3 linked regions of the Homo sapiens genome follow. The protein of the gene in region 3 purifies or fractionates together with the protein of the main gene of each other region. This does not show direct contact. Each region holds a gene or a part of one and is shown on either strand. Other genes may lie near its edges.

Region 1 (7,027 bases), on a different chromosome or scaffold from region 3:
AGCTGCCACATTGCTCTTGAGAAAGGGTTTAATTTCATTTCCCTTGGGCAGTGCTAGAAAGCTCTCATTCTCGTCCATCTCATGTCTCTTAAATGAAGTGGAGGTTTTGCTGTCTTAGTGAAGAGGCATTGTCCTTTGACTGCATCAGTGTTATTACCTCATTGCTATTGTCAGCCCATCTTCAAGCATTGGGCCACCTAGAGATAAAATGTCAAGCCATTTGAGGCCAAGCAAAAAGAGGCAGTGAGTTCATTTATTTGTTCTTAGAATTATTTGAACTTTCGTTGGCTTTGTATTCTGCCGATTTGAATTTTTCCTTCCGCAACAGGTATAGTAGGTAATGCAGTAAAGACAAAACTATTTTTGTTTACCTTGGGTAAATGTCCTAGAGACTAGTAAATAAACAGATTCTAAACCTTATCAGAAAAATACTGCTGTATATGGGAGCTATGGAGTATAGGTTGTGATTCAGGTCCTGCCAATTCCATTTTGTAATTCTCTGTGACATACTGCCTAATTCAGTCATGCTTTTTTTTAGTTTAATGTTTTATTGTGGTAAAATATATGTAACAAAAAATGTGGCCAGACGCAGTGGCTCACACCTGTAATGCTAGCACTTTGGGAGGCTGAGGCGGGCGGATCACCTGAGGTCAGTAGTTTGAGACCAGCCTGACCAACATGGTGAAACCCAGTCCCTACTAAAAATACACAAATTAGCTGGACGCAGGGGCGCACACCTGTAGTACCAGCTACTTGGGAGGCTGAGGCTGGGGAATCGCTTAAACCCGGGAGGCGGAGGTTGCAGTGAGCCAAGATCGCACCACTCATTCCAGCCTGGGCGACAGAGCGAGACTCCGTCTCAAAAAAAAAAAAAAAAAAGTACTCTTCTAACCATTTGATGTGATCTCGGCTCACTGCAATCTCTGCCTCCCGGGTTCAAGCGATTCTCCAGCCTCAGCCTCCCGAGTGGCTGGGATTACAGGTGCCCGCCACCACGTCTGGCTAATTTTTTTGTATTTTTAGTAGAGACAGGGTTTCACCATGTTGGTCAGGCTGGTCTCGAACTCCTGGCCTTATGATCCACTGCCTCAGCCTCCCAAAGTGCTGGGATTACAAGTGTGAGCCACTGTGCCCAGCTCTTCTAACCATTTTCAAGTGTACAGTTTAGTGATACTAAGTTCATTTACATTGTTGTGCAATCATTGCAGCTATCCATCTCCAGAACTTTTTCATCATCCCAAACTGAAACCCTGTACCCATTTAACACTAACGGTCCGTTTCCCCTCTCCCCCAGCCCCTGGTAACAACATTCTACTTTCTCTCTCATGAATTTGACTGGTTTAGGTGCCTAATATAAGTGGAATCATACAGTATTTGTCCTTTTGTGTCTGGCTTATTTCACTTAGCATAATGTCTTCAAGGTTCATTCGTGTTGTAGCAGGTGTCAGAATTTTCTTCTTCTTTTTTTTTTTTTTTTAATTAATTATTTTTTGAGACAGGGTCTTGCTCTGTCACCCAGGCTGGAGCAGTAGCCTGCTCATGGCTCACTGCAGCCTCAACCTCCTGGGCTCAAGGAGTTCTCCCACCCCAGTCTCCCCAGTAGCTGGGATTACAGGCATGCACCACTATGCCCAGCTAATTTTTGTATTTTTTGTGGAGATGGGGTTTTGCCATGTTGCCCAGGCTGGTCTCGAACTCCTGGGCTCAAGCAGTCTGCCCTCCTTGGCCTCCCAAAGTGCTGGAATTACAGGTGTGAGCCACTGAGCCAGCTGGAATTTCCTTCTTTTTTAAAGTTGAATGCTATCTTGTGTATATATGTGCCACATTGTGTTTATCCATTTATTTGTTGACAGACATTTGGGCACACTTTTTAAATTCAGTTTGTTTCTGGTCCATCTCCAACTGGGTTTGATACTGTTTTTTTTGGTACATTGACTTTACCCTAAAGCATCCTTTTAGTCTTGATGGTGCTTCAGTTGCTCATTTGGGGTGCTTTCTTATTTAGAAATGAAGCTCAAGAAGAGATCTATAAAAAGGGACAGTCCAAAAGAATATGGGGTGAGCTCTACAAGGTAAGACTCCTAAATTCTCTCCCATTGAGTGGTTCCTTGGGCTTTCATGATTTTGTAGAAGAAAACTAATTTTGATATATTGAAGCTCTGTTGCGCAGAGTACAGGCACCACTGCCTGTTCCATCCTCTTCCTCCTACAAAGAAACTCGGAAGGCGTACTACCATTGATCTAGGTAACTGCATTTTTTAAAGTACTTGTATAAGAGTAACAGCTATCTTTTATTATACAATCACATATTTATTACCTGTCAGTATTTTTTAAGATTTCCTGCCAAATTTATCATGCCTAGTTAAAGTCACATGCAACATTTTAAGTTATTTAGTCCACCCCTCTCCTTTTATCGATGAGGACTCCTGTCTAGAAAGGTTTAATGCTGTACCTAGCTCGACTAGCTTGTTAGTGAAGGAGGCTTTGTATATCTTGATTTCTGATCCAGTGATCTTTAACCGGCAGAGGTTTATGTCCATGCACTAATAATAACCTTCAGAAGAAAAATTTTCAAGTATAATCACGTAATTAAATAGTAACATGATAGGAAACTAGTACCGTGAAGGCAAGCTAAACTTTGTAGTTTTTTGTGAAATACACAAAACCTATAATATTACAAACTTAAAGATAATATTACAAACTTAAAGAAGTCTAAGAAGTAAATGATTTAGTTCAATAATCCATAGTAGTTAGGAAATAAGTTGAGTTTCATCTAAGCTAGTTTTTCTGTTTTAAATTCAGCAGGTTTCAAAAGCCACAGGATGAAAAACCTTTTGAATTCTGATCACTGGGCCTTGAGATTAGCCACAACGAACTCTGCCCAGAGACTGTTTTGAAGTTGTCTCTAAATATTATTATTTTATTTTTCCCAGACTCCCTTAAATGTCATCCCTCTTTTATTTGTACTGTAGCAAACCATTTTTGCCTTTCTGAATTTTCAGGTGATAGATTCATCAGATGTTGTAGTTCAAGTTCTTGATGCTAGAGATCCAATGGGTACTCGTTCCCCTCACATTGAAACTTACCTGAAGAAGGAAAAACCTTGGAAACACCTCATTTTTGTACTTAACAAATGTGACCTTGTTCCAACCTGGGCAACAGTAAGTACAACTACTAAACCAGAATAGACTATTAAGACATCTGTTAGTAAGTCAGTTGTAGGGCTTTTAGGCTAAAGTGTTGTCCGGCTGAGATTGTAGTAATGGGAGTGCTCTCATTGGAAACACGAAAGTGTGCTCATTGATAGTGGGCAGAGGCACCAGGAGACGGCTTCTGAGGCCACTGCCTGCTTCACATTATGCTCCATTAATTGCATTTAGTAACAATGAAGACATTTTTTGGAATATTGTTTTGTATTTATAAGACAGAAGAACAAAGCATTAACTGTTATACTTGGAAAAAACATTTCAAAGAATTATAGCTAACATTTTCCTTAGACAACAGTATATTTGAAACAGTTCTGTAATTCAAGCTCTGATTCTTCCACATAATGTAAATAAATGTACTGCAGTTTACCAAAATGTTTTCATCTCTCCTTCTAGAAACGGTGGGTTGCTGTCCTCTCCCAGGATTATCCAACACTTGCTTTCCATGCAAGCCTTACTAACCCGTTTGGCAAGGGAGCATTCATTCAGCTTCTGCGGCAGTTTGGAAAGGTATTGAGCCCTGATCTGTTTCTCCTGGAGTTGTGTAGCTGTGAGTTGGTATAAGAATCTGTCTTGCCATGGCATAGCAGAAAGTTGCCAACTTCTTAGCCGGACGTGGTTGCGCAGGTCTGTAGTCCTAGCTACTCAGGACGCTGAGGCAGGAGGATTGCTGGAGCCCAGGAGATCAAGGCTACAGTGAGCTATGATGGCACCACTGCACTCCAGCCTGGGTAACAGAGCAAAACCCTGCCTCTAAAAAAAAAAGATGTGGCCGGGCGCGGTGGCTCACACCTGTAATCCCAGCACTTTGGGAGGCCGAGGCAGGCAGATCACAAGGTCAGGAGTTTGAGACCAGCCTGGCCAATATGGTGAAACCCCGTCTCTACTAAAAATACAAAAATTGGCCAGGCATGGTGGCACACGCCTGTAGTCCCAGCTACTGGGGAGACTGAGGCAGGAGAATCGCTTGAACCTGGGAGGCGGAGTTTGCCGTGAGCCGAGATTGCGCCACTGCACCCCAGCCTGGGCGACAGAGCGAGACTTCTCAAAAAAAGAAGAAGAAGATGTAAAAACTTCCAGAGATGTAAAAACTCACAGAGCATCAGGATTATAAGAGATTCTGAAGTGTTTTCTTGCTCAGCCTTTGCCCCCATCCGTGACCAGTGTTGCTTCCATTTCTGCCACAGCCCTGGCACCTGACGTTCCACGCTCTGCTGGGCTTTCCAGGCCTGCTGTGCATCCTCTGCCCATGGAGCCCATGCAGCTTCTATGTCCTCTGGTTGGAGAGGGCCCTGCCAAAATTCAAGCTTCAGATCCCTGGTCAGACGTCAGCTCCTGAGGGAAGCCGTGGAACCAGACTACCCTATCAAATTCTTAAAGCTTCATGTTCTGTACCTGTCATTTTGAATTTGTCTATTTAGTTAATTCTACCTGGCTTCTAACAAAAGACACATGTCTGCTGTCCCACCCTTCCCCACTTTACAGAAGCAAATGCTTCCAATAGCCATTAGTTCTGTTATTTTCCTCCATATTTTTAGTACATGCTTATGATTTTCTTGATCTGTGCCCACCCCTCACCCCCAGTTTAAGATGCTTATTAATTTCTTACTATGGAAAATGAGGATTTGCTATCTTATAGCCATCCTCTCTCTGTATGTACTTCCCCCTGTATTGTTAGATGCCAATGTTGGGTTACAGTATTATTCATTCAGTGTTGGTTGGTTGTTGTTGTTGTTTTAACTTGGAAAGGAGAGCTTTATTTCTCATAAAGGGTTGCAGCCTGCAGGGTGGCCACTCTAACAGGCTGGGAAGAGTAGTCTTGGCCATTCAGTCTTTACATTGTCATGACTGTAAAATATTAGTCACAGCTGATCCACATGGTGTGCTATGAGTATAATTCCTTTCTGATCGAAGCTTTTATTTTCGCTAGTGTTACTTTGCTGTGTTCTATTTGTATCTGTCACTATCATACTACCAAATTCTCTGATACAGTGGGAACTGTCAGAGCTTCCAGGCAGCACAGGTAGTTCCCTTCGGTGGCCAGCACTCCGTCCTCCGCAGGGCTGGCCGCTCTCCAGGCTGCTGCAGCGTCGTCTTTCTGGGATTTCCTTTCACTGTCATCCAGAGAATTCCCATGGCTGTTTTCCTGTATGGGACCTCTTATTTATAGGACCTCTTTTCTTCTTTTCTGGTTTACTCCTTTCTTTCCATGGGACATATTTTCCAAAAGTTTCCTGAGAAGGAATACTTGGAAAGAACATTTTTTTGAGATACGCCTTGCGTTCTGAAAATATCTTTATTAAGATCTTTATTCTACCCTTTATGCTGTTTTTCCTCAGAATACTGAGGTTACCACTGCACTGTCTTCTGAATTCTGAGGAATCTGAGGCCATTCTGACCCCTCATACTTTGTGTGGCTGTGATTTCTTGTTTTGAGACAGGGTCTTGCTTTGTCACCCAGGCTGGAGTGTGGTGGCACAACCACAGCTCACTGTAACCTCAAACTCCTAGGCCCAAGCGATCCTCCTGCCTCGTTTTGGCCTCCTGAAGTGCTGGGATTACAGGTGTGTGCCACCACGCCCAGCCAATCTTTTCTTATTCTAAAATTTAAAATTTCTCTTGTTCTAAAATTTCACAGTGGTGTGTCTTGAAGTGGGCCTTTTATTGCTCAGTGAGCTTGGCGTTTGATGAGACTTTAGTCTGATATTGTCTTACATTATTTCTTTGAAATTTTCTTTCCTCCCTCAGTTGTCTGTATTCTTGTTCAGAAATTTGCTTTTACCTCCTGGTTTAATTCTTGATTTATATTTGCTTTCTTTTTTTTTTTTTTTTTTTTTGAGGCAGAGTCTCACTCTTGTCACCAGGCTGGAGTGCAGTGGTGTGATCTCGGCTCACTGCAGCCTCCGCCTCCCGGGTTTAAGCGATTCTCCTGCCTCAGCCTCCCGAGTAGCTGGGACTGCAGGCACACGCCACAACGCGCAGCTAATTTTTGTATTTTTAGTAGAGACGGGTTTTCACCATGTTAGCCAGGATGGTCTTGATCTCTTGACCTCGTGATCCGCCCGCCTCAGCCTCCCAAAGTGTTGGGATTACAGGCATGAGCCACTGCACCTGGCCTATATATTTTTTCTTTTGGTACATATATGACATTTTCCTCTATTTTCTGGGTACTTTTTTTTTTTTGTGAGACAGAGTTTTGCTCTTGTTGCCCAGGCTAGAGTGCAATGGCGCGATCTCGGCTCACTGCAACCTCCTCCTCCCAGGTTCAAGCAATTCTCCTGCCTCAGCCTCCCGAGTAGCTGGGATTACAGGCATGTGCCACCACACTTGGCTAATTTTGTATCTTTAGTAGAGACGGGGCTTCTCCGTGTTGGTCAGGCTGGTCTCAAACTTCCGACCTCAGGTGATCCGCCCCCCTCGGCCTCCCAGAGTGCTGGGATTACAGACGTGAGCCACTGCTCCCGGCCACTTTCCTTGTTTTGATCATCCAGCTGCCCAGTCACAAAATTTATTTTGCCAATTGCTTTTAATTTTTAATTTCTGAGAGCTCTTGTTGAATTCTGATTTGCTCTGCCTCCTTTTACATCTTATTTCACAGTCACAGTATCATTAATGACGTTTTGAAATTTTCCTGTCTGCATTGATTCTGTTACCTCCAAATTTTTGTGGGTTTTTTTGTGTTTTCTGCTACAGTCACGCTTAAAAATTTTTTCTTTTACTTTAAAAATTTTTTTGAGACAGGGTCTTGTTCTGTCTTAACCCAGGCTGAAGTGCAGTGGTGCGATCATGGCTCACTGCAGCCTCGACCCGCAAGTAGAGTC
Region 2 (7,027 bases), on a different chromosome or scaffold from region 3:
AGTGGATGGTCTTGAACAGGTACTTTTTATCAATAACTGAAAACTGTAGGGATCTTACTTGGTGTTTTTATGTAATTGTTGGAAGGATCATTCAGAAAGCAAATGGGTTAATGAACTTTTAAAATGCTGTAGGTGAGGCATGACAGTTTACACACTGTGTTTATCAGTGCTCTTGATGAAATTACACAAGTTAGGAAATGGAAAATGTCCACTTGGTTCATTTGTATCTGTCTGCTTAAACGCTTTCTAGGGATATGTTGTTTGTCCTTCTGAAAAGAGATTCCTTCTGCTCTTTACATTCCTTAAGAAGAACCGAAAGAAGAAGCTTATGGTCTTCTTTTCATCTTGTATGTCTGTGAAATACCACTATGAGTTGCTGAACTACATTGATTTGCCCGTCTTGGCCATTCATGTAAGTGATGATGATGAGCTCATTGAAAACAGGGTATGCTTATTAAATCCTATAGATTGTAGGATTGGAGGTATTGCCCTCTCCTGGAAACATTGTTCTGAGTAGTTTGATCACCACTAGATGATGGATCCTGTGTGGGGGAGCGCTGCTGGGTGTGGAGGGGTATGAGGACTTTCGAAGAGTGCAAGACACCATCCTCCTTGAGGGGCTTGCGGAACAGTTGGGGAAATAGGACATAGGCCAAGGGATGAGCTCGAAATAGGGTAACAGTTCCACAATTTGGGGGTTCTACTGCTAGTCTTCCTCAAGATTCCAGCTCTAATGGATGTTTTTATTTAATTCTAGGGAAAGCAAAAGCAAAATAAGCGTACAACCACATTCTTCCAGTTCTGCAATGCAGATTCGGGAACACTATTGTGTACGGATGTGGCAGCGAGAGGACTAGACATTCCTGAAGTCGACTGGATTGTTCAGTATGACCCTCCGGATGACCCTAAGGTAACTGGCATCTTTGGAATATCTTCAGAATGACTCTGCATTAAAAGTTCACTTATTCTCCCAGTTCCCTGACGGAAACTGCATTCCACATTCAAGGTAAAGATCCCTACTATACAGTGACTGCAGTATTTCTCTGGTATTGAAAAGTACTTAAGGCTTTTCAGGGCTCAAACGGGCTGTGCCAGAGGATTGAAAAGGATCAGTGGGACTTAAGTTATGAAAATGAGATCCTTGGAATGATCTCTTAAGAACAGCAGATGCCTGAAGGAAATAAAATTGCTTAAGGAAGTAGATAAACTTCTGTAGTATATGTGGTAGAATAAGCTTCATTGAGAAGTATTTTCAACAAACACTGGATTAAAGCCGTTTTGATGATGAAGCACACATAATACTCATTTTATTAGATCGCTGTTAATGCAAACATCATGTCCAGCCTTTTTTTTTTTTTTTTTTTTTTTTTTTTGGGCCTCAATCATTGGCCTATTGGGGGTGATGTGCACAGAGCGATTGCTGGCCCAGCTTTGTGGGGGTGTGGTGAAGGTGTGTGTGGCCCAGCACCGTGGGACTACACCATCTCAGTACAGACATGCACATACTCAGGATGCAGATACGCAAATGGGCTCATGTGGAAGTCACTGCGTTAACTCAGATTTTCTTTCTCCACCAAAGGAATATATTCATCGTGTGGGTAGAACAGCCAGAGGCCTAAATGGGAGAGGGCATGCCTTGCTCATTTTGCGCCCAGAAGAATTGGGTTTTCTTCGCTACTTGAAACAATCCAAGGTAAAGATCTGTACTTGGAGAAAGATTTCTCTTGGTGTAGGGATTGTTAGCAAGCAACATTTCTACATGTGTCAGAGGAGTCTCGAGTCTGGCCAGTGCTGTTACAACCATTCTTATGGCAATTAAGCAAGTAAGGTTTTATGTACTTCTAGCCCAAGAAGTGAGCACAGAAGGAACTGCCCACATGGCTCGGCTTTCTAGCTCTGTTACCCAGCAACACCTCTGTGTCCCAGCCTCTCCTTTCCTGTTCCCTCCAGCCCTCTTTGAAACCTTCTCCACTCCTTTGAAGCTCCCTCACACCTAGTCATCTCTGCTTCTGCTCCCCTTCTTTCCTCTTACCTCATGTGAAGCAGTGGGGAATCCTTGTTCGCTCTAGCCTCTGCCTCCTCCCCTGCCCTCTGTCTCCTATTCATCAACTCTTGGCCTACAGTCTCTTCCTTGCGGTTGGCGCTTTACCATCTCAAATTTCTCACTGTAAAAAAGTAACTTCAACCTTAAACCTGTTCTTCTACCCCTGCCTGCAGGAGCTACTGTCTGTTGCCTTTCCTCAGTCAGCCTTACTGGAAAAATGGCTTATATTCTTGCCATTTACCTCCCTCTCAGTCCCTAACCAGCCTAATTTGGCTTTAGCTTTCTACTATCACACCAGAATTGAATCCATCAGGACCCTAAGTGGCCTCTTCATTGCTAGGCCATGTGGGGGATGCATATCAGGCCTTCTCCTGCCTGACATTTACATCCTCATTGGCCTTTCTGGCATAGTCTTGATGATAGGCTTCCTCTACCCTGTAACTGCAGGCAGTTCCCTGAAATTGCTCTACAGCTTTTGCACACTTTGTCCAGAATGCTTGGTTTCAGCTCGCCTCTGTCTTTGCTGGGAAGCCATCGCTGATCTCCTGCCTCCTTGTTCCCACAGCACAGGTGCTCATCAGGTTGACATTTCTTTCTTTCTTTCTTTTTTTATTATTATTACACTTTAAGTTCTAGGGTACATGTGCACCATGTGCAGGTTTGTTACATATGTATTCATGTGCCATGTTGGTGTGCTGCACCCATAAACTCGTCATATACGTTAGGTATATATCCTAATGCTATCCCTTCCCCCTCCCCCCACCCCACGACAGGCCCCGGTGTGTGATATTCACCACCCTGTGTCCAAGTGTTCTCATTGTTCATTTCCCACCTGTGAGTGAGAACATGCGGTGTTTGGTTTTCTGTCCTTGCAATAGTTTGCTCAGAATGATGGTTTCCCGTGTCATCCATGTCCCTACAAAGGACATGAACTCATCCTTTTTTATGGCTGCATAGTATTCCATGGTGTGTATGTGCCACATTTTCTTAATCCAGTCTGTCATTGATGGGCATTTGGGTTGGTTCCAAGTCTTTGTTATTGTGAATAAACATACATGTGCATGTGTCTTTATAGCAGCATGATTTATAATCCTTTGGGTATATACCCAGTAATGGGATGGCCGGGTCAAATGGTATTTCTAGGTCTAGATCCTTGAGGAATCGTCACACTGTCTTCCACAATGGATGAACTAGTTTACAGTCCCACCAACAGTGTAAAAGTGTTCCTGTTTCTCCACATCTCCTCCAGCACCTGTTGTTTCCTGACTTTTTAATGATCGCCATTTTAACTGGTGTGAGATGGTATCTCACTGTGATTTTTATTTGGATTTCTCTGATGGCCAGTGATGATGAGCATATTTTCATGTCTGTTGGCTGCCTAAATGTCTTCTTTTGAGAAGTGTGTGTTCATATCTTTCGCCCACTTTTTGATTGGGTTGTTTGATTTTTTCTTGTAAATTTGTTTAAGTTCTTAGTAGATTCTGGATATTAGTCCTAGCCAAAATTGACAAATGGGATCTAATTAAAGAGCTTCTGCACAGCAAAAGAAACTACCATCAGAGTGAACAGGCAACCTACAGAATGGGAGAAAATTTTTGCAATCTACCTATCTGACAAAGGGCTAATATCCAGAATCTACAGGTTGACATTTCATTACTTATCTTTCTCCCCCTCAAGACGGCAAGCTCTCTGAGGGCAGAGTCCATGAGTTAGGTACCTATTTTCTCTCTAGCACCTGGCACAGGCCTGTTGCTTTTCTAGTTATCTAATGAGTGATAACTGATGGCAGATCCATCCTGTAGGAGTTTGTGGTCATCATGGCCTCCAGTGTCACAAGCCTCAATACAGGACTGTGGGGGTATTAGGGCCCCTCTTCTGACATGGAGAAAAGGGGCTGATGGCCCTTCTGACTAGAAGCTTCAAGCTGATTCATGGTTGCAAATAGTCAGGATTATAGAGATTCTTACAGAAAAGTGCTTTACTGACTGTGTCCCTATCCAGTTCCTTGCCTTTCAGAAAGAAAGAAGTGCAGATTGCCTAACTCAGCAGAGCAAAGATGTAACTTTCCCATCAACATTGGGAGACTAGAAAAAGCAGATTTTCCTTTCTGTCCTGAGGGAATTTCATAGGCCGGTTCATCCTTCCCTGTCTTCAGTACCCAGTATCGGAATGCTGATCATCCTGGTTTACTAATCTTAATACTTTTGATTTCTAGGTTCCATTAAGTGAATTTGACTTTTCCTGGTCTAAAATTTCTGACATTCAGTCTCAGGTATGTGCTTTTTAAACGTTTGTGAGTAAACAGGAACCTTGTCCCAGCACTCTGTTTGTAGTGATTCACTGGGCAATCACTGTCCTTTGAAGTCTACCCTGTCCTAAAGTGAGGATCAGGCTGTGTAGTGTATAAGGTTTCTTGCTATTCTAGTTATCACCACTCTGTGCCCTCTTTAAATGTTTTCCATGGAGTGGCTTTGCTCTAGGATATTTAAAATCTGGTGTTTTGGAGGTTTTTGTTTGTTTTTGTTTATTAAAACCAGTGTTTCTTTCTATTTCAGCTTGAGAAATTGATTGAAAAGAATTACTTTCTTCATAAGTCAGCCCAGGAAGCATATAAGTCATACATACGAGCCTATGATTCCCATTCTCTGAAACAGATCTTTAATGTTAATAACCTAAATTTGCCTCAGGTTGCTCTGTCATTTGGTTTCAAGGTGCCTCCCTTCGTTGATCTGAGTATCCTTTTCTTTAATGAAGTTATCCTGTGACTAAGGAACAAAAGCTTGACAGAGGGGCATTTGGGGCTTTGCAGTGGATTGGTATGTGTTCTGGCTCAGACTGGAGGCTCCAGTGTTCACCCTGGTCGATGTCTGCTTTTCTGTGCTAGCACAGGACATAGAGGTTGGATGGGGTAAGCAGGGCTTAATCATTAGGATGGGGTTACAGGGACAAGGCAGCTTATGCCTTGAGCCTTCAAAAGACAAAGAAATTTGACTGTCAAGGAGAGACAGAGACAGTTGTGTGTTCCAGGCAGAAACACAGGTTAAAAAAATCAAAACTTCAGTGTTTGCTGAGGCTGCACTGTGCAGGGTACTTAGGTGAATGGGGTGTTTTGAAGCTAAAGAGAGGATGGGACCTTTCAAGGAGTTTTAATCATCTTAGAACCCCTGAAGGATTTTATGCAAGAAAGTGGCAAGTTCAGCAAAAGAAAATAAAACTTAGGTGTTGCTTAAGATAAAAGGCAGGAGTACTTCCAGTTGCTTCAGTTGTGATTTATAATTTGTGCCTTTCAGAAGAAGAAACTGAGCAGCTGAAATGAGGCCTGTGCTTCAGTGCCATAGGGGTAACTTCTGAGGGAACTAGAGGACCAAATTTTGGGTCACCATCCCCATTGTCAGCATTGAGTAAATGTCAGCTGAAATGAATGTATGTCGAGTCCTGTGGAAGGAAGAGCAGCTCCTTCACTTAGGCATTCCTAAATCAATTCCGAAGAGAAATGATAGTCATTTGTTTTGACACAGGAGGTGTTTTTTTAATGTGCTCCTACCAACTTCCTGATTAAACTCATAAATCCTTATTCACTGTCATGAATTTCATCGTGTGGAAGAAATAATTAATATGACTATTACACACCGAAGTTTAAAATCATACCTGCTAATTTAAGTCCACAGTCACGTGGCCACTCCTAATTTTCTGGAAATTTATTGCATAGGCTTATGTTCCCACATTTTCATTGTTGAGAATGGGGTTGTGGAGGAACAGTAGTGTTCATGCCGGTTTTTTTCTCTGTGTAGATGTTAGATTGGAGTTCATTATCTTTTTTGCTTGATTTCCTTAATGTTTGCCTCCAGACGTCAACAGTAATGAAGGCAAGCAGAAAAAGCGAGGAGGTGGTGGTGGATTTGGCTACCAGAAAACCAAGAAAGTTGAGAAATCCAAAATCTTTAAACACATTAGCAAGAAATCATCTGACAGCAGGCAGTTCTCTCACTGAACACATGCCTTCCTTTCATCTTGAATAACTTTGTCCTAAAATGAATTTTTTTTCCCCTTGATTTAACAGGATTTTTGTAGACTTTAGAATTTGGACTTACCTAACAAGAGTATAAATTGACTTGGGTTGCAAGCACTGAGCACTGTTACTTCTATCACGTCTCTCTTTTATTTCTGGGATATAAAACAGGCTTTAAGTTTCTTGGTTGCCCAAGGGCAGAGCAAGGAATATCTGGTGTTTCTTGTGATGATAATATTTTAATTTTAAATATCCCTCCCTCATACAAGTGTATGTTACCATTTTAATATAATTCTTTTTGTACCTTTCCTTCTTGTTTTGCGAAGATTTTTGTGGCATGGATTGCTGTGCTCACTGCTGTAAAAGGTGACCTAGTGTACTGGGCAGCTGGTGGCGGTGCAGAAAAGAGTCTCAGGTTATTTTTTGTTTTTAGTTATTTCTTGGACCTTGACAGTATCTAATGACTCCTCCTGAAAATGCTGCAGTATAAAAGAGCAAAGAGCTTTGGGAAATACCTAAGAAGCACCTTAAGATTAGGGTGGCATTGCTTTTATAGATTCTTGATTTTAAAGCAACAGGCCTTTCTCAGGTGTTGCATTTTTTGGAGCAAAAACTATGGGTTGTAATTTGAATAAAGTGTCACTAAGCAGTTATAACGTTTGATGGCTGGGGGGTAGGAAGAGGATGGAATTGAGATGTTTGAGCCTCATTTACATCAATAGAGGTGTAATGTACTGCATTTCTTCATTTGGTAACATAACAAAGACTTTCATACAAAGAACGATGATGCTCCTCATTAAGATTTGTTTAATTCAAGGTGGTTTGGATTTGGTAAGCCTTTGCACTCTGTAGAGTACTTAGAAGACAAGGGCAACTTACTTGGAGTTAGAGCCAAGCTGTCAGACGGTGCCCAGCACACATTAATGTTAGCTTCTTTCTGAGAAAAAAATACCTCTTCCAGGCCCTGAAACAAA
Region 3 (7,027 bases):
TTTTGTCACTTTACATGAGGTAAAATGGGTATGCTTTTGTCACTTTACATGAGGTAGTTGATGTTAGTAATGCGCATTAAGATAGAAATATCTTGTATTTATTGATAAATTGGATTTTTTTTTTATTTTTGTTAGATCCAGTGCTTGCTGGGTTTTTTTAGAGAGACAGGGTCTCACTCTGTCCCCCAGGCTGGAGCACAGTGACGTGATCAAGGCTCACGGCAGCCTTGACCTCCTGAGCTCAAGCAATCCTGTTTCAGCCTCCCGAGTAGCTGGCACTGCAGGCATGCTTCACCATGCCCAGCTAATTTTTAAATTATTTTTTGTACACACATGGTCGCCCTGTTTCCCAGGCTGATCTTGAATTCTTGAGCTCAAGCGATCCGCCTGCCTTGGGCTCCCAAAGTGCTGGGATTACAGGCATGAGCTACTATGCCTGGCCTGGATTAACTGGCTTTTGAGGGGGCCTGAGTTAAGTTCCTACCACATATTTCCGGTCATAGAAACATCACCATACTTCTAAATAAAGACCAAAACATTTAAAATATTAAACATTGAAATAAATGTGAGCTATATATACATTTGAAACAGTAATAAAAGGAATTGACATAATTATTTACCCAGTTATTCCCATCCACGGTTGTAGGTGGCTGGAGTTTAATCCTGATAGCTCAGGGAAAAGGGTAACAGGCAAGAGCCAACCCTAGAAAAGGCGCTGTTTCATCACAGGACAAACTCATACACCTACATTCGTTGGGACTGGGACTGGGATAACTTCAACACACCAGTTCACCTAATGTGCACGTATTTGGATGTCGGAGGTTATGCTCACAGATACCTCCTGAGCTTGGTTTGTAGGTTTTCAGTATTACTCGTACTCTAGCAAAAGAAGCTTTCGGAAGGAGAGAAAATTTAATTTTTTGCTATTTGTTAGACTGATCTCCTAGTGTTTCTCTCTTTAGCCATGTTAATTGTGTCCAATGAATTTTTAATTTTGTTTTTGAGACAGAGTTTCACTCTGTCGCCCAGGCTGAAGTGCAGTGGCATGATCTCAGCTCACTACAACCCCCCGCCTTCCAGGTTCAAATGATTCTCTGTGCCTCACCCTCCTGAGTAGTTGGAACTACAGGCACGTATCACCATGCCCAGCTAATTTTTGTGGTTTTAATAGAGATGGGGTTTCACCATGTTTACCAGGCTGATCTCGAAGTCCTGACCTCAAGTGATCCTCCTGCCTCAGCCTCCCTGAGTGCTGTGATTACAGGCGTGAGCCACCGCGCCCAGCTGAGTATTATTCTTTACACTCTAAACCATACTGTGTTTCACAAAAGTCTCTTAACTGTATACTTTAGATAGTCAGATTCTGAAATGCCGGTATATAATTTACTGCATAAAATGCATGTTTGGCTGTGAGTCAAAAACTGCGGTTGAGGTTCCAGTGCTGGTTAGGGAGTTTGTTCTCTGTATAGATCGAGGTCCATTTAGGGGCTTATGGATAATCAAAACTGCACGTGGTACATCTATGCCGTTTGTTAACCAACAGAACTGTTCCTGCTAAAATGTTTGTATGGTGTTTTTTGGTAGGAGGCAAGGAGAAAACGAAGAGAAAGAAATTTTGAAAAACAAAAGGAGAGGAAGAAGAAGAGGCAGCAGGCTAGGAAGACTGCATCAGTTCTTAGTAAAGATGATGTGGCACCTGAAAGTGGTGATACTACAGTGAAGAAACCTGAATCAAAGAAGGAACAGACCCCAGAGCATGGGAAGAAAAAACGTGGCAGAGGAAAAGCCCAAGTTAAAGCAACAAATGAATCCGAAGACGAAATCCCACAGCTGGTACCAATAGGAAAGAAGACTCCAGCTAATGAAAAAGTAGAGGTATTGTTTTAATATTTACTGTTCATAATGGATTGGTTCAGTGGCTACTGTGTCAGGCAGGTACTGTGCTGAGCAATAAATGATGAAAAATACTAGAGTGAACCCAAAGAACTGTGAAGGTGGTTATCATATCATGATTTATTGTACCTTTTTTTTTTTTTTTTTTTTAGATGGGATCTTGCTATATTGCCCAGACCGGTCTTACACTCCGGGGGTCAAAACAGTCTTCCCACCTTGGCCTCCCAAAGTGCTGGGATTACAAGTGTGAGCCACCACACCTAGTCCCAACCGGTTGGCTTTTTTTTTTTTTTTTGCTTTGCTTTTTTTTGAAGATGGAGTCTCACTCTGTCACCCAGGCTAGAGTGCAGTGGCATGATCTCAGCTCACTGCAACCTCCGCCTCCCTGGTTCAAGCAATTCTCCTTCCTCAGCCTCCCGAGTAGCTGGGATTACAGGCGCGCACTACCATGCCCAGCTAATTTTTGTGTTTTTGGTAGAGACGGGGTTTTGCCATGTTGGCCAGGCTGGTCTTGAACTCCTGGCCTCAGGTGATCCGCCCGCCTTGTCCTCCCAAAGTGCTGGGATTACAGGCATGAACCACCGCACTCAGCCACCAGTTGGCTTTTACACAGAGAATCTGGGAACCCTTGCCCTACACCATGTGCCAGGGATGTGCAGCTACATTTGGAAGACTCAGGATTTGCTCCCATGTGTCTCTGCTGTGCTCCTCATGGTGCTTCCAGGATTCCCTCCCCTCAGTCATAGGGAAAGGTGGTTTTCCTCTGATTGGACCAGGAAGACCTCTGGGTCTTCACAGTTTTTTTTTGTTTTTTTTTTTTGAGACAAGGTCTCACTTTGTTGCCCAGGATGGAGTGCAGTGGCATGATCTCGGCTCACAGCAACCTCCACCTTTCGTGCCCAAGCAATTCTCGTGCCTCAGCCTCCTGAGTAGCTGGGATTACAGGTGTGTGCCAACATGCCTGGCTAATTTTTGTATTTTTAGTAGAGATGGGGTTTTGCCATGTTGGCCAGGCTACTCTTGAACTCCTGGCCTCAAGTAATCCACCTGCCTCAGCCTTCCATAGTGCTGGGATTACAGGCATGAGCCACCTCACCTATACCTCATTCTTAATAGTGGAATACAGCTTATTTCTGTCATCATACTGAGGTGTACCTTTTGGGGGTTAACTAATAAAAACAGTAACTTGGCCATGCGCTGAAAAACAGTAACTTGGCCGGGCACAGTGGCTCACGCCTGTAATCCTAGCACTTTGGGAGGCCGAGGCAGGTGGATCACCTGAGGTCAGGAGTTCGAGACCAGCCTGGCTAACATGGTGAAACCCTGTTTCTACTAAAAATACAAAAAATGAGCCGGGCGTGGTGGCACACACCTATAATACCAGCTACTCGGGAGGCAGAGGTTGCAGTGAACTGAGATTGTGCCATTGCACTCTAGCATGGGCAGCAAGAGCGAAACTCAGTCTGAAAAATAAATAAATACAAATAAAAACAGTAACTCCTGGAGTTAGAGTGTCAGGTTTTGTGGCTTTTTCTATATTAAACTTACTTTTTTTTTTCTTAGATTCAAAAACATGCCACAGGAAAGAAGTCTCCAGCAAAGAGTCCTAATCCCAGCACACCTCGTGGGAAGAAAAGAAAGGCTTTGCCAGCATCTGAGACCCCAAAAGCTGCAGAGTCTGAGACCCCAGGGAAAAGCCCAGAGAAGAAGCCAAAAATCAAAGAAGAGGCAGTGAAGGAAAAAAGTCCTTCGCTGGGGAAAAAAGATGCGAGACAGACTCCAAAAAAGCCAGAGGCCAAGTTTTTCACCACTCCTAGTAAATCTGTGAGAAAAGCTTCCCACACCCCCAAAAAATGGCCCAAAAAACCCAAAGTACCCCAGTCGACCTAAAGTCAGTGATTCAACTGGAAGGAAACCTCAATGCTGCCTCCAGAGCTTTTTGGAAATACTCAGATCCTGGCCGCCTTTGTAACCTTCTCTAAACGTCAGGCCTGGACTTAAAAGATTTTTTAAAACCTCCATAAGTAGTCCAGGGGCGGTGGCTCACGCCTGTAATCCCAGCACTTTGGGAGGCCGAGGCAGGCGGATCACAAGGTCAACGAGATCGAGACCATCCTGGCCAACATGGTGAAACCCTGTCTGTACCAAAAATACAAAAATTAATTGGGCATGGTGGTGGACACCTGTAATCCCAGCTACTAGGGAGGCTGAGGCAGGAGAATTGCTTGAACCTGGGAGGCGGAGGTTGCAGTGAGCCACTGCACTCCAGCCTGATGACAGAGCAAGACTCAGTCTCAAAAATAAATAAAAATAATAAAACCTCCATAAGTAATCCTGACATATGTTCCTGGGTATAATCTGTTTCTAAATTGTCCTTCTGTGTATTTGCTAATGTAATAGAGGGAAAAATAGAGTGCTTCTCTGTGGTTGTTCAGCACTTTAGGTAGCCAAGGTGAGAGGATTGCTTGAGGCCAGGAGTTTGAGACTAGCCTGGGCAACTTGGTAAAACCCCATCTCTACAAAAGAAAAAAAAAAATTAGTGTGGCATGGTGGCATGCATCTGTGCTCCCAGCTCCTCACGAGGCTGAGGTGGAAGGATCAAGTGAGCGCAAGAGGTTGAGGCTCCAGTGAGCCACGATCACCCCACTGTGCTGTAGCCTGGGTGACAGTGTGAGATTCTGTCTCAGAAAAAACAAAGTATAACATTGCTTTGCTTCTGAGTATACTGTTGGCTTTCCAAATCAGTGGGTCTGACTTGAGGTCTGTGATGTGACCCTTTTCCTCACCTGCTCAACCATTATTCACATGGACTCCATCATATTCATTTGTAGTCATTCCCAGAGTGGCCCAGTGAGGGTCTCGCTGTATGAGAGTCGGCTACGGAATTTAGGAGAAACAGAAGTTTCTTGGCTTTCATGCTGAGCTTGTTGGTCTAAGCTTATGAGTCACTGGATTAGCATCCATATGGGAAGGGAAATTAACATGGAGTCATTTATACAGGGACTAAATTGAATCCTACCTACCGGAGGCAAGAACATGATTTATCTTCCATAAGCCTTATCCTCTTCCTCCTTATTCCTCAGTCCATATGGATTTGCTTATGTATGACAACTCCAAGGAATCTTGGAAGAGTAGATTGCTAACGTTTCCACAATTGTCAAGTATATTCTGAGGCAGTAAACACCTTTTTAGGTACGTGGCCTTTCACTGGTTGTGAATTGGTATGCATCCGTAGTAGTAAGTTCACAGATTCACTGCAGTGCAGGAATGTTCTTGCATGCCAAAGACTCAACTGCTTTCAAAGATAATGTGGGTGCTAGATGCAGTGGCTTACATCTGTAACCCTGTTAGGGTGACCAGACCCAACACCAGGTCGTGGGGGTGACAAAGTCCAGTGGAGTCAAAGGATTGAGAAAAAGACAGTTTGAGAGAGAAGTAGGACCAGCAGACCATCGGGATGGTGGAGGCTGTGAAGGCCGTGAGCTCTGGGAGCCCACACTATTTATTGGTAATCCAACAAAGAAACAGATGGTGAGAATGTGAAGGTCAGAAGGGCACCTTGCATTAAGCACATGATTTACAGCTGTGATGGTTTAGCATTTGCTCTGCTACTTGAGATGATGGAGAGCAGGTTCTTTTAACTCAAGTTACAGTCGATCCTGGGAGAGCAAGGAGCCAGCAAGTCTAGACATTCCAGAGCCACAGGCCCTGGATTTTATCCAAGCCACGAGGGATTTTATGCCCTGGGCTTAGATTATGGTGCGTCAGGGCAGCCTTCCACCCTTTAGCACAGAGCTTGGTGTTCCAAAGACCACAAGGGGTTTTAGACCCTTGACCCTGGACATATTCCAAGACTCTTTTACATTATGTCAGAATGCAAGCCCTGCCTCAGCTTCTCCCAACACTCAGCTTTTCGCAACATAATCCCAGCACTTTGGAACGCTGGGTGGATTGCTTGAACCCAGGAGTTCGAGACCATCCTGGGCAATATGGCAAAACCCCATCTTTACCAAAAATAAGCTGGGTGTGGTGGAACATGCCTGTGGTCCCAGCTTCTTGGGAGGCTGAGGTGGGAGGATTGCTTGAACCCGGGAGGTAGAGGCTGCAATGGGCCATGATCACGATCCTGCACTCCAGCCTGGGCAACAGAGAGAGACAGTCCCTGGCCCACTGCCCCCTTCCCTGGCCCAGTCTCAAAAAAAATGAGGCTGGGCGTGGTGGCTCACATCTGTAATCCCAGCCAAGGCTGGCAGATCACTTGAGGCCAGGAGTTCTGAGACCAGCCTGGCTTACATGGTGAAACCCCATCTCTACTAAAAATACAAAAACTAGCCAGGCATGGTGGGAGGCACCTGTAATCCCAGCTACTTGGGAGGCTGAAGCAGGAGAATCACTTTAACCCGGGAGGTGGAGGTTGCAGTGAGCTGAGATCACACCACTGCACTCCAGCCTGGGCGGCAGAGCAAAACTGAAAAAAAGAGAAAAAAAAAAACATCTAGCTCTCCCTGAAATTAGAGGAGTCTAGCCTGCTTTTGCTGTTTTTTTGGTAGCGAGAGTAGCGGGCAGTGGGGGAGATGGTCTTACTCTGTTCCCCAGGCTGGAGTGCACTAGTGTCATCACAGCTCCAGCCTCAATTTCCTGGGCTCAAGGCGATCTTCCCACCTCAGCCTCCCAAGTAGCTCAGACTACAGGGGCATGCCATCACAGCTGGCCAGTTTTTACGTCTTGCGTAGAGATGGGTTTTCCCTGTGTTCCCTAGGCTGGGCTCGAACTCCTGGGCTCAAGTCCTCCTGCCTCAGCCTCCCAAAATGTTCAGATTACAGGCATGAGGCAGCATGCCAATCCTGTTTTTGCATTTTAGTAACACAAATTGTAATGTTAACTTTTTAAATTATGAAAGCATCTAAAATATAAAATTATTTGTAACCCCACTGTCCTTTTGGGCTTCTATAAATGAATATACATCTAAAATGTGGGGGTTTAGCTTAATTGATTGTTTTCCATAGAAACTAGGTTTTATGGGAAGATGGTTGGATAGACTTGTTTCACTTAAAGGTCTGGTTTGTGTAGGACAAACCCACATATGTAATCGTGCCAGTCTGTTCTCTGCATGACATAATTTTCCAGCAATAGC

Evidence for each region.
Region 1: the proteins of RSL1D1 (region 3) and GNL2 purify together in Homo sapiens (affinity purification with mass spectrometry; 2 studies listed by BioGRID and IntAct, with this or other methods). This does not show direct contact.
Region 2: the proteins of RSL1D1 (region 3) and DDX18 purify together in Homo sapiens (affinity purification with mass spectrometry; 2 studies listed by BioGRID and IntAct, with this or other methods). This does not show direct contact.

The regions. Positions count from the first base shown.
Region 1 is NC_000001.11:37,578,912-37,585,938, reverse strand, and holds part of GNL2 (nucleolar GTP-binding protein 2), read left to right. Parts: intron 1-2,005; coding exon 2,006-2,072; intron 2,073-3,002; coding exon 3,003-3,161; intron 3,162-3,602; coding exon 3,603-3,716; intron 3,717-4,393; coding exon of another isoform or gene 4,394-4,597; intron 4,598-7,027. UniProt on the Homo sapiens protein: GTPase that associates with pre-60S ribosomal subunits in the nucleolus and is required for their nuclear export and maturation.
Region 2 is NC_000002.12:117,824,690-117,831,716, forward strand, and holds part of DDX18 (ATP-dependent RNA helicase DDX18), read left to right. Parts: coding exon 1-19; intron 20-250; coding exon 251-412; intron 413-757; coding exon 758-910; intron 911-1,579; coding exon 1,580-1,693; intron 1,694-4,259; coding exon 4,260-4,316; intron 4,317-4,599; coding exon 4,600-4,777; intron 4,778-5,892; coding exon 5,893-6,035; 3' UTR 6,036-7,027. UniProt on the Homo sapiens protein: ATP-dependent RNA helicase that plays a role in the regulation of R-loop homeostasis in both endogenous R-loop-prone regions and at sites of DNA damage.
Region 3 is NC_000016.10:11,834,543-11,841,569, reverse strand, and holds part of RSL1D1 (ribosomal L1 domain-containing protein 1), read left to right. Parts: intron 1-1,584; coding exon 1,585-1,875; intron 1,876-3,456; coding exon 3,457-3,783; 3' UTR 3,784-7,027. UniProt on the Homo sapiens protein: Regulates cellular senescence through inhibition of PTEN translation. Acts as a pro-apoptotic regulator in response to DNA damage.